Linked DNA regions of Homo sapiens. The protein of the gene in region 2 interacts with the protein of the main gene of each other region in a pairwise test. Each region holds a gene or a part of one and is shown on either strand. Other genes may lie near its edges.

The links.
Region 1: the proteins of SLC14A1 (region 2) and TMIE interact in a two-hybrid assay, tested with the Homo sapiens proteins (one large-scale study listed by BioGRID).
Region 3: the proteins of SLC14A1 (region 2) and C1GALT1 interact in a two-hybrid assay, tested with the Homo sapiens proteins (one large-scale study listed by BioGRID).

What each region holds. Positions count from the first base shown.
Region 1 is NC_000003.12:46,699,776-46,704,215, reverse strand, and holds the start of TMIE (transmembrane inner ear expressed protein isoform 1 precursor), read right to left. Parts: upstream 2,825-4,440; 5' UTR 2,729-2,824; coding exon 2,636-2,728; intron 1-2,635. UniProt on the Homo sapiens protein: Auxiliary subunit of the mechanotransducer (MET) non-specific cation channel complex located at the tips of stereocilia of cochlear hair cells and that mediates sensory transduction in the auditory system.
Region 2 is NC_000018.10:45,730,612-45,734,259, reverse strand, and holds part of SLC14A1 (urea transporter 1), read right to left. Parts: intron 3,246-3,648; coding exon 3,056-3,245; intron 1-3,055. UniProt on the Homo sapiens protein: Mediates the transport of urea driven by a concentration gradient across the cell membrane of erythrocytes.
Region 3 is NC_000007.14:7,234,540-7,238,187, reverse strand, and holds part of C1GALT1 (glycoprotein-N-acetylgalactosamine 3-beta-galactosyltransferase 1), read right to left. Parts: intron 3,627-3,648; exon of another isoform or gene 1,809-3,626; intron 1,803-1,808; exon of another isoform or gene 557-1,802; intron 1-556. UniProt on the Homo sapiens protein: Glycosyltransferase that generates the core 1 O-glycan Gal-beta1-3GalNAc-alpha1-Ser/Thr (T antigen), which is a precursor for many extended O-glycans in glycoproteins.

The DNA.
Region 1 (4,440 bases), on a different chromosome or scaffold from region 2:
TAGGGGATATGCTTCACCCTGGGTGTCTAGGGACATGGTCCACCCTGGGTGTCTAGGGGACACGGTCCTGCCCTGGGTGTCTAGAGGACACAGCTCTACCCTGGGTGTCTAGGGGACACAGTCCTGCCTAGGTCTGAAGGGACATGGACCCACACTGTAGAATTTGAGTAAGATCTGTCCCTGACCAGAGATGGATATGACCCCATGTCTGTCACTTAGTGTGGCTGAGGGACAGGGAGAGGGGTCTGTCCTCTGAGGGAGAGAGAACCCTGGGGCATATGAGCGAGATGTTGTGCACTGATTACTAAATAAGGACAGACACGAGAAGTCCCTTCTGGTTCTCTGAGAAGAAAGGCAACCTGTAGTTCGACCATCCAGCCCTTCTTCCCCCAGGTCCGTAAACATGGATTAGGCATCTGTCATGAGCCAGGCGCTTCTTCATCTAGTGAATGCCACCCTTCAGCGTGGGTTGCAGAACTCAAGAGAGGATCAGCAACCTGTCCCAGGTAACCCAGAGGATCTGTGGGCTGGGATTGGTACCTGATTCTCAGGCTCTTTTCTCCCTGCCAGGGTGAGCTATTGACAAGAAGACACCATTCCTCAGTACTTTCCCCTGGATATATGTGTGGGGTCAGACATGTACATAAAGTTGGGGAACATGTGTGAGGTTGGGCACATGTGTGGTTGGCATGCATGTGGGTGTGGTCAGGGACATGTCTGTGCCATTAGGGTTAGGGCCCTGATGGTGGCAGCTGCCCTAATTCTAAGGCTCAATGTGTTGGCCCGGCTGGTTGTATGACTGGAAGACTCTGAGGGCCATGGCAAAGTTCTCAGGTTCTGAGCCAAGGCAGCTCACTTCCTACACATTCTTGCCCCAGCCCTGATGTGGGTGGAGCTGGGCCTACTCTTACTGATAGGGGTCTTGGGTGGACGGCAGCAGATGACAGCTGGTCTTCTCCTCATGTTGGGCCCTGCTGGGGTCTGATTTCTGGAGCATGGAGGTCCCCACCTCCTTCAGAGCCTCACGGGCTGATGGAGGGTGATGGTGACCCACACAGGGCTAAGGTGGGTGGTGACATGGCCCCCAGCCCTGCCCATGTCTTTGGTGCTTCCGTGAGGGAAGAGCTAAGGCCTTGCTCAGACTGTAGGCAGATGTCAGGCAGATGGCCTCCAAATGCAATTTCCCTAGAACTGGGAAAAGATGAGTTCCTGGGGGTGAGGGAGAAGAGTCCTTGGCTGAGAACTGACTTAACCCCCACCCCCAGCTTTCTGTCTGCACCTAGGCCAGCTCAGTTTCTGTACCCAGGCCTCAGGGCAGCCTGTGAGGGGCCCAAGTACGCCTCACAGGGCTCAAGCCAGCATAGCTCCCCTTACAGGGACACTGGAGCTGACACCTGACTCTAGCCCAGCCTTGTGGTCATGCCCTCTGGGCAACAGCAGGGACAGGCTACATCTGGGTCCAGGGCTCTGTCCCTATGTCCCCATCAAACCCTCCAGTTCAGGGCTGTGTCCCCCCATAACAACTTCCCCATGGCTCTGTCCTCTCTATCCCACACTGTCCCCAAGCCCCCACCCCTCAGGACTTCCCTGGGCACCTCTCACTGCCTCTTGCATTTCTGTTTTCCTGCTCCCTCTGGTCCGCCCCTGCCTGCACAGCCTCCATCCCCTGCTCCTCCCTGGCCCTGGCTCCTGGGCCTTCTCCCTCTGGCCTCACAATTCAGAACTCTAGGTCTGGTCTGCCAGCTCCCTCGTTGGCTCCCCTTTCAGGCTCCGCAGGAGTGGGGTACAAGGGGGTTAGGGAGGCTACAGATGGCCCCACCCTTCCTGGCCCCAGCCAGGCTCTCCACCAGGGCTCTCCCCCAGCTTCTGTGCTATCTCAGCAGCTCCTCCCACCTCTCCCACTGTGTGCCTGCTCCCAATTTACCCTCCTTCCAAACCAGAACTCATCATGACTTGTCCCTGAGCAGAAACCTTCTAAAGCTCCCGGTTATCACCAGGACCAAGTCAGACTTCCCAGTCCCTAGGTCCTGCCCTGCCTGCCCCTCTGGACCTAGTGCTCCACATAGCTTCTCTGTAAAGGGTCTCCTCATCCTGCTGCCCCCACCCTCCAACTTGGAATGCCCTCGTCTCCATCTTAAGGCTATGTCTCCCCCTCCATTAGACAGGGGTCCCTGGAACATCTCTGGAGATAGAGGCTGTTGCCTCCAGAAGACCCTAAATTCAGGGTCTGTTCCATCAGACTAGAGGTCCAGGAAACCCAGGGCTGTGCACCTCCCTGCCAGTGAGACCAAAGGCTGGAGGATGGGGGCCCAGTATCCCCCATCAGTCTGGGCAGGGCTGTGTCCCCAAGTCAGGCTGGGAATCCCTAAGGTCAAGGTGAGTCTCCCCCGTCAGACTAATGTTCCAGAAATCGGGTACTGTGCCCTTCCATCAGACCAGGGACCCTAAGAGTGGGGCTGAGTCTCTCTCACAGCCTGGCAGGGCTTGGGGCAGGGCTGCATCGCCCGGGAGACTGGATCTCTCAGGGCAAGAGTAAGGGATCAAACAAGCTCCGGATCAAAAAGGCGTCCCCTCTCCCCCAGCCCCCTGCCTGGAGGGTGACAGCCTCCCCAGTCCCTCCGTGCCGCGGCCTCACCTCCACCAGCTGCCCGGCAACCCCCGCGAGGCACACCCCGAGTGCGGCGCCGCCCAGCACGCAGAGGGGACCCGCGCCCGGCCACCCCGCCATCTTCGTGCCACCGCGCCGCTTGCGGAGCCCAGGGACGAACGGGCCGGCCGCCGGTCACTGCCCCTGCCAGCCGGCGCTCGGTGGCCACGGGCTTTGGCCACGGGTAGTCAGCGAGCATCATTTATTCATCCTCGGTGTCAGGTTCCCGCGCCGCCCGCCCCCGCCATCGCTGCGGTGGAGGGCCCGCCCCCTCCTTCCCGGGAGATCGGGCCGCAGGCTCCCCCTCCCTGCCCCCACCTTCCGCATCCCCAGGGACACTGAGGTGGGGGTGGGCGGGAGGGAGGACAGGCTGGGGCCAGGTCCCTAATCAACAGGTCCCCCTCCCTTCTGCAAATGGGCCTCAGTTTCTCCATCTGGGACAAGGGGGTGGGACTGGAATCTGCTGATCTAGGAGGCCCTTCCCATTCTGTCATGCTGGATTTGAAAAATATACTGGATTTGAGTTTGGGGGGGGGGCAGAGCGGGCAGGTTGCCATGGTGACAGGCGCTCAGGGATGTCCTGGGCTTTCTGGCTTGGCTTCCTGCCCAGAGGCGGCTCTGGTCACCCTGGACACCAGAGCTGGAGAGCAGGGGATGGTATGGTCAGAGCTGCCAGCCGGCAGTGTTATGGAGGGTTCCAGAAGAAGCCAGCATCTTCAGCCCCACAGGACAGAAGTGGGCTGTCCCTGGAAGGGCTGGAGGACCATTTTCTGACCCTGGCTGCCCTCAATCTCTGCCCCAGCCTGAACACTGACTCTGACTTCAGTCTAAGCCAGGACCCTGACCTCATGCTGAAGTTGACCCACACTGCACTCTGGCCCTGACCCCATGTTGAGCCTTGACAACTGAGGGACAGAGGGAGGTTCTGAGGAGATGTAGAGACCTGGGTGGGGGCTGAAGACTTAGGAAGAGGAGTGGGGAGGCCTGGAGTTGGTAGACTCCCCTTCCCTCCTTTTCTTCCTTCCTTCTATTCTTATTTATCTCCTGCTGCTGAGTGTTAGGAGAAGCAGCCCAGGTGTTGGGCCCCTGGAACCCTTATCACCAGGGGCACTGGTGAAGGCCTGCGCAGGCTGGGGATGGCCCAGCAAGGCCTGCCCTGAGAACCAGGGAGACCCTGTGGCTCCAGAGCCCTGTGAGGTTCTGGCCTGGACATGCCATGAATGGGCAAGGACCACAGCAGGCTGCAGCAGGGAGCGGAGGGCCACCTGCGGTCACCTGCCAGTGTCAGGGCCCGGAGATGACAGCCAGGCAGGAAAACGAGAGCTGTTGGAGAAGGACTGCAGCCCAGGAGACCCATCGAGGAAACGCTCAACAGTGGGAGGTAAAGTCTGGGGACTGAGTGGGCTGGGCCACCCAGTCCTCCCCAGGCATGCCCTGGCCAGGCAAACAGGAACTCTGCTAAAATCCAAATCACTTGTTGCAGCACTCCAATCCCCACTTCCTCATGCTGCTGGTCACAGGCCAGGCTAGGGAAAGCCACACTGACCAGTCAGGGAGGTCACCCTCGGGACATGGGGTCAGGGAGGCTGGACAGGGTGAGGACTAAGTGAGCCTGTCAGTAATGCACTGAGCAAAGCATTACTCCTCTGTTTCTGTTTCTTATCCATGGCATGGGGAGGGTGAGACTCCCATGATTGATGTGAGGATGATATGAATTAATGAATATGGGAGTGCTGGCTCTCCTTAGCAGGACAGGCAGTGCTCTGCTGCTTACAGGCTCCCAATCACAGCTC
Region 2 (3,648 bases):
ACACAGCACGGACATTTCCTGGGTGAGCTTTGGTTGCACTTGCACATAAATAACACTAGTAACTTCCAGATCATATTCATATTAAAAAATGAGATTATATTTGGAAATGTATTTCAAAGTCTACGTAAGCATCGTACAAAAACTAATAAAGACATGAAGTGAAATATACATAGATAAAAATATAAATGTGCATTTAGATCAGTGGTCCCCAGCCTTTTTGGCCCCAGGGACAGGTTTCATGGAAGACAATTTTCCATGGATGGGGAATGGGGGATGATTTCGGGATGAAACTGTTCCACCTCAGATTATCAGGCATTAGATTCTCATAAGGAGCAAGCAACCTAGATCCCTCACATGCCCAGTTCATAATGGGGTTCGCACTCTTATGAGAAGCTAATGCTTCTGCTGATCTGACAGGAGGCGGAGCTCAGGTGGAAATGCTCACTCGCCCACCGCTCACCTCCTGCTGTGCGGCCCAGTTCCCAACAGGCCACAGACAGGTACCTGTCTCCAGTGCAGGGGTTGGGGACCCCTGATAGAGAATGACTCCCTCTACAGGTGTCACGGCTAAAGACAGGTCTACAGTGGCTGAGAGGAAAGGGGAGTTTAGTAAGGCAATCTGCTCTGTTTTCTTTTAGCCTTTCCTTTGGAAAGTTATTCTTTTAAATCAAGAGCCTCTGACTTGAAGAGCGCTTTTAGCATATGAAACTGTTGCTTAAGTTTGATTTCTTGGTGAGAGATATAAGATTCCTGAAATGTAAATTCACTTTCACAGTGTCTTTGATCTTATCAACATTAATCTTCCAGGTTAGTATACATTTTTGTGTCCTGATGCTTCTATTTTGTTGTCTCCAAACGCACATTTCAAAGTTATTGCAAAGAAGAACAATTGCTTTTCTCTTACTTGGAGAAGTATCCCATTTAATTATGTGCATGTTGAGCACCCAGTTCTTTCTGAGGTTACTTTTTGCTTAGTATTCAATCTCATTTCTTCCCCGTCTTCTTCTCCTTCTTTAGATTGAGGGGGTACATGTGCAGGTTTGTTACATAGATGTATTGCATGATGCTGACTGAGGTTTGGGCTTCTATTGAACTCGTCACCCAAATAGTGAACAAAGTACCTGATAGGTAGGTTTTCAACACTTGTTTCCCTTCCTCTCCTCTTTTGGAGTCCCAGTTGTCTACTATTTCCATGTCCGTGTTTACCCAGTGTTTAGCTCCTAATTGTAAGTGAAAACGTGTGGTATTTGATTTTCTGTTACTACATTAATTCACTTAGGATATTGGTCTCCAGATACATCCATGCTGCTGCAAAGGACTTGATTTCAATCCTTTTTATGGCTATGTAGTAGTTCGTGTTGTATATGCACCACATATTCTTTATATAATCCACCATTGATGGGCACCTAGATTGATTGACCTGACAAGGCAGGATTCCCACAGCTCTGAGAGTTGGCAACGTCTGGCACCGTGAAAGGCACAGGATCCACTTCCCAAGGGCCTGTCACTCAAGGATGATGTCTGTAGGGGGATGGGGGAGTAAAGATGGTGAAGTGAGTAGGTGAGGCCTAATGCTGGGCTCGAGCAGGAGGTGCTATAGCCAGTGAGCCACACTGCAGGGGCTGGTAAGGGATAGTGTGACAGCTGCTTCTTGGCTTGTTTCTAACTGGGCCAGGAGGCACCATTGCAACAGGCAAGATGATGTCACGTACATTAATCCAGATGAACATTAAATGTGGGGTTCCCTATTCAAAAGTTCTTTGTTTCCCTTAAATAATCCTTGAGGGCAAATGGGAGGTGATACAATTTGCAAAGGTACAACTCAGAGACTGGGACTACACATGACAGTAGAGAGCCATGCAGACTTGTCCTCTCAACAACTGACTTGGAGATGTTAATGCTTGAGTTTGATCAGTGGAAAATTAATGGCAACATCTACAAATTGTGGAATGCCATAGTTAAAGCCACAGGAAGACATATATTTACTTAAAACAGAGAATTTCCATTTTAATGCAGTCTTTTCAGACCAAGGAAAGTAAAACATTTGAAACTAACACATATAAATGACTTGTCTTCTAAATAATATCTGACAAAAAATGAGTTGATCATGTTTCATCAGAGCAAAATCATAAAGGAATATTCAGTATGGCACAATTATAGACTCCATCCCCAAACTGAGGAGACCTTTTCTTGGCATGCATTGGAATAGAGTTTAACCTAAGCTATAAAATCCCCTTCTACAGGGAGCAAATCAGACTCCTTGAAATTGATAGAAAAGTGGAGCATTTGCTAACTCTCTCCCCACGGACCTCTTTAGGCAATTTGCAGCCAGTGTTACAAGAGCTTAGTTGTGTAATGACCACACTGGGGATTGGGATTATGCGTTGATCTCAGACACCTGGAATACTGGTTCCCTCCCTAAAGGAACTGGCTAGTGGGGAGCTATCTACTGCCCTGGTGAGAGTCAGCTCATCACTTCTTCAATGACAGATCAATTTATAAAGTGTGTGCTATTTTTAATCTAATCAATATATCAGAAGACTCACTAAGGCTTCTTAAGTCAGAATCCACTCAATTGGAATTCATGGTTATTCTTTTCTCCAGGAGCTGAGCTGACCTTTGCACTGTCTATGAAGAATGAGTTTCCTAAACTCATCATAGCAACAAGATATAACGGGGGTTATTAAGCCACTAAAACTTTTTCTGAATTCATATGCACTTTTTCCCAAATAGAATGCTGACGACAAATAATTTTATCAATCATTAAAGAAGATCCCTTCAGAACCTCTCCAGGGAAATACTTGTAGCTTAGTTCTGGTTAGCACGTAATGCCACAAGAATCTGGCATCATTTAGACCAGCCATTTATTCAGATATCAAGAGCAAGAGACTGTAACTGATTCCCTGACCTCTGACTAAAAACAAATATAAACAGTTCTGTGGACTAAATGTTGTTTATCCTGGGAAGGATGTGGTTTTATCACTGTTGCCCACAGTAACTGGTCAGCCCCTGTGTCTCAGAAGGGAGCTGAGAAGGCTTGAAAGGGTACACCTACCTGTCCTGGCTGAGCAAGAGGGCCATCAGAGTGGAGACCACTGTTCCCAGCCAGCCAGTGAGAGCCCACCAGGGGTTCTGAACAAGAAGTCCTACCAGAATCAGGATTCCACTGACGGGGTTGTTGACGAACACCACTTGGGATATGCCCCGGAGAATCCAGTCAATGAACTGGAGCACCACGGGTTTGTCTGGAAGGGATGAGGTAAAGCAGAGCTAAGGAAGCTGCCAAGTGATACTCTTCAACCACAGGCCCACCCTGAGCAAAATCAGCAAAACCTCCTGGAAGTGAAACATTTTTGATATTTCTTTAATATTTCTCTCTCAACCCATTGTTGCATTAGTGGCACCCAGATCCCTGAAAGCCTCTATCTACTGTATGCTCAACCCACACTGCCCCTCCTAGAATCTAAGCTCCTGAAAGCATCTAATGCACTTATTTTCATGCTTATAGGTACAAATTCTGAAGCCAAAGGAATAAATTTAAGTTTTAAGTACTGAAACTACAGGATGAAGCCAGGTGCCTTCTAATATGAGCTGGGCCCTGGCTACTGTCTCCATAAGAAAAAAAAATGGAGAGGTTTGCAGGTTAAA
Region 3 (3,648 bases), on a different chromosome or scaffold from region 2:
TGAAGAAAGCACTGTCCTAATTTCAAAGTCCCTATTTATCCCTCTATTAGTGATTTAGCCAAAGGAAAGCAAACTCATCCTAATGTGAACTGACACTCTGATTTATTGGTTTCATGTCAGTGTTATCTAGGACATCACTGGAGCTAGTAAGAGTTGACATTATAATCTAAATTCGTCTCAAACTGTAGTTTACTGATTAAAAGCAGCAGCATCACCTGGGAGCCTGTTAGAAATGCATAATCTTAGGCCCAGACCTACTGACTCAGAATCAGCATTTTAATAAGTTCTCCTGGTGCTTCATAGGCATGCTAAATGCTGCCTTAAATAGTCTCTGCTTGGCACTTCATAAAAGAAAGCAGCCAGTTTTTAATAGATTACTGACAGAAATTTCTCACTGCTCTGAACGAGTTTCTGAAGAGCAGGAAAGACATGCTGCTGAAGTGGCAGTTCATTTTTGAAGTTCACAATAATCCACTATTAAGAATTTCTACAAGTACCCTGAGGTGGTAAAAGGTCAAAGCACAGGAGTTGAGATTACTTTCTGATAGTCACATACCTCATTCCAAAATGTAAATCCACCAATCAAAAACAGAAGAGAACAATGGTAGACATGGGAATTCCAAGATGGTCTAGAGCAGTGCTCTTTAAACTACAGGTTTGCAAAGAAATAAGGAGCTTATACCAGAACAGAAAGCAACACATTACTTTGAAAAAGGCCTACTATCAGAACCAACCAATCAAAATGTCCACTTAACTAAGCAGTGAGCTTAAAACTGAAACTTAAAACTGTCCATTTAAGTAAGCAGTGAGCGTAAAACTGATTTACATCCTAGTGTAACCTCATTATCTTGTGCAGACAAACAGCTGACAAAGTGTCAGGCCAGGACCGCATTTTGAGTAGCACCGGTACAGAGGAAGAGCTCAATGATGAGATTCTAGATGAGTACTTCCCAAGCTATCTGTGGTGAAAGGCCAATTTTTATTTCTAAAAGAGGTCTACACTGTGTAAATAGGATAAAAATGAATTATAAGAAAAATAAAACTAAAATATAAAACAAGTCCTAAATTTTTATTTTTAGCTTCAGACAAAATTACTCCAATTACAATAAAAGTTTCTGCTTACTCCCAAATAAGCAGACATTCTTTAGTTATAGGACCAGAATGAGTCTATGAACTGACTTTCAGTAGCAATGTTCTGGGCAGTATCCTGACGAAGCATATGCTTAAAATTAAGGTCAAACAGCAAGTTACAGAAGCTTAGTCCTATGAGAAATTAACAATGGAGGCATATAATATACTAGTTAACCAACTGAGAGGGAATAATGGGAAAAGCTGGGTGGAACATAAAAATATTCTCATGTCCCAGCTGGGCACAGTGGCTCAGGCCTGTAATCCCAGCACTTTGGGAGGCTGAGGCGGGTAGATCACGAGGTCAGGAGTTCGAGACCAGCCTGGCCAACATGGTGAAACCCTGTCTCTACTAAAAAAGATACAAAAAATTAGCCAAGCGTAGTGGTGGGCGCCTGTAATCCCAGCTACTCGGGAGGCTAAGGCAGGAGAATTGCTTGAACCCGGGAGGCGGAGGTTGCAGTGAGCCGAGATCCCACCACTGCAGTCCAGCCTGGGTGACAGAGCGAGACTCCATCTCAAAAAAAATAAAAAATAAAAATTCTCATGTCCCTCTGAGTATCAAGATTCACAATCCAAAAGGACAACAGCAGACAAAATCACCCTACTTTCAGTCAGAAAGCATAGACATCTCATATCCTTGAGGAGCCCAATCTCTTGGCTATACAAATATACCAAACCTTGAATGGATAGAACAGTGAATGCAGGAATCCCCAATCTGTTTCATTCAGGTAAGACAGGTTTGTCCACCGCTGAACTTGATAAATAATTTTTCATTCACTAATTGCTTTGTACTGGGCATGGGCTGGCATAGGAGATGAAAAAAATGAGTAAGACACATTTCCTGCTGCAGAGGAATTCAGTCCATTCAGGGAGCCTGAGCCTGACACACAAACCAATAATTGCTAAATACTAAGAGATGTTATTATAGAGGTATGAACAAAGGATTCAATGTGCTGAAGGAAAATAGTGGCTAATAAATCCTACAGAGCAGTAGATAGGGACCTAGGTAGAACAAAGAGGAAGATTAAAAAATAAAGACATAATACAGAAAATAGGTTATAAGTTCACCAAAAGGAATGGTGAAGTTTGGTTGAGTGCAGGTACATGGGTATAGCTGAAGGCCTGAATCGGAAATGCACTGAGGACTGAGAGGAAAAGAGATGAAAAATGGTAAAGTAGCAGCACTGTTAGAATGTACTGACAAATCGAATTGGCTAGCATGTGAAGGCAAGCACCTACCATGATTTCTTAATTTCTGGCACAGACAGATGGTAATGAGCCATATAAAAGAAAGAATAGAGGAGGAAGAGCAACTTCTAGGAGTAGGAAGGAAAAGGAGACTCAATTTACACATGCTGAGTCTGAAGGGAGTAGACAAACTTTTAGCATACCCCACATTTTGTAGGCCACTGAGCTGGACAAGTATGTATCTAATACACATGCCTGCAGTGAGGCCTCGTACGGCTTACTATTAGTAGGGAACTCTGCCTCCAATTGATCACCTAAAGACATGTGGCTATGCTACAGAGCAAATACACAGTGACCAAACTGTTCTGTAGGAACACAGAGCACTTGCTCAGAGCTGAATTACTGTTACATAAACAATCACAAAACACGACATACTTTGTAATAGTATGTTTATGTTTGCTAGTTGATAAAATGGAACCAGGCTTTGAAATCTCACCATTCAACCTCTGCTTGAGAGGTGGTGAAGAAATAATTTACTACTGAGAAGAGAAGAGAAAAAACTGAATAGTGGACCCTCTGCATCCCAGAATTCCAATTGTTTTCAAGCTACTTATATTATTTTCTGTCAAACCGTATTTTGCATTGTGTTAATGTCACCTCACAATGTCTGGAACTGGGCTAAAGACAGTAAGAAATAGAAGGAAATTAAAATTATGCGGGTTAATGATGTCACACAGACAAACAGCTAAAGGACAGAAACTTGGAGAGAACCAACACTTAAGGGACACATAAATAACTCAACTGAGAAAATCTGGTTAGAGGTAGGAGGCTAGGAGAAAATGAAGTCTTTAGAACGCATCCTTGGTTTTTAACTTCCTTGTTCTTTGTGCCTCTTGAGGAAAAAAAAGATTAGTTCTATTAACTAATTATAAAAATATAAATCGAAACTTACATACACCTCAAGTTTCTCTAGGAAAACAAGACTTAAGCAAAAGCTATGACCAAAACAAGTAACAAAAACCAAAGACACACATATAACAAAACTGAACCTAGAAAAACATTTTCAGAAACAAATCAAATCTGAATAGTTATGCCCTTCCCCAAATCATGGGTTCTGAACTATTTCTACTTAAAAACGAATTCAAAATTAATATCTTATTCCCTAAATAAATCTGAGTTTTAGCAATTCCCTTCTCTTGAGGCAAACCAAGAATTATTTTTAATATCTGGAATATATAGCCCATTTTAATTAACAGATACAGACAGGAATATGACAAAATTTAGACTAAAATACTGCTTATGTTTACTGCTTAATAAAGTAAACCATAC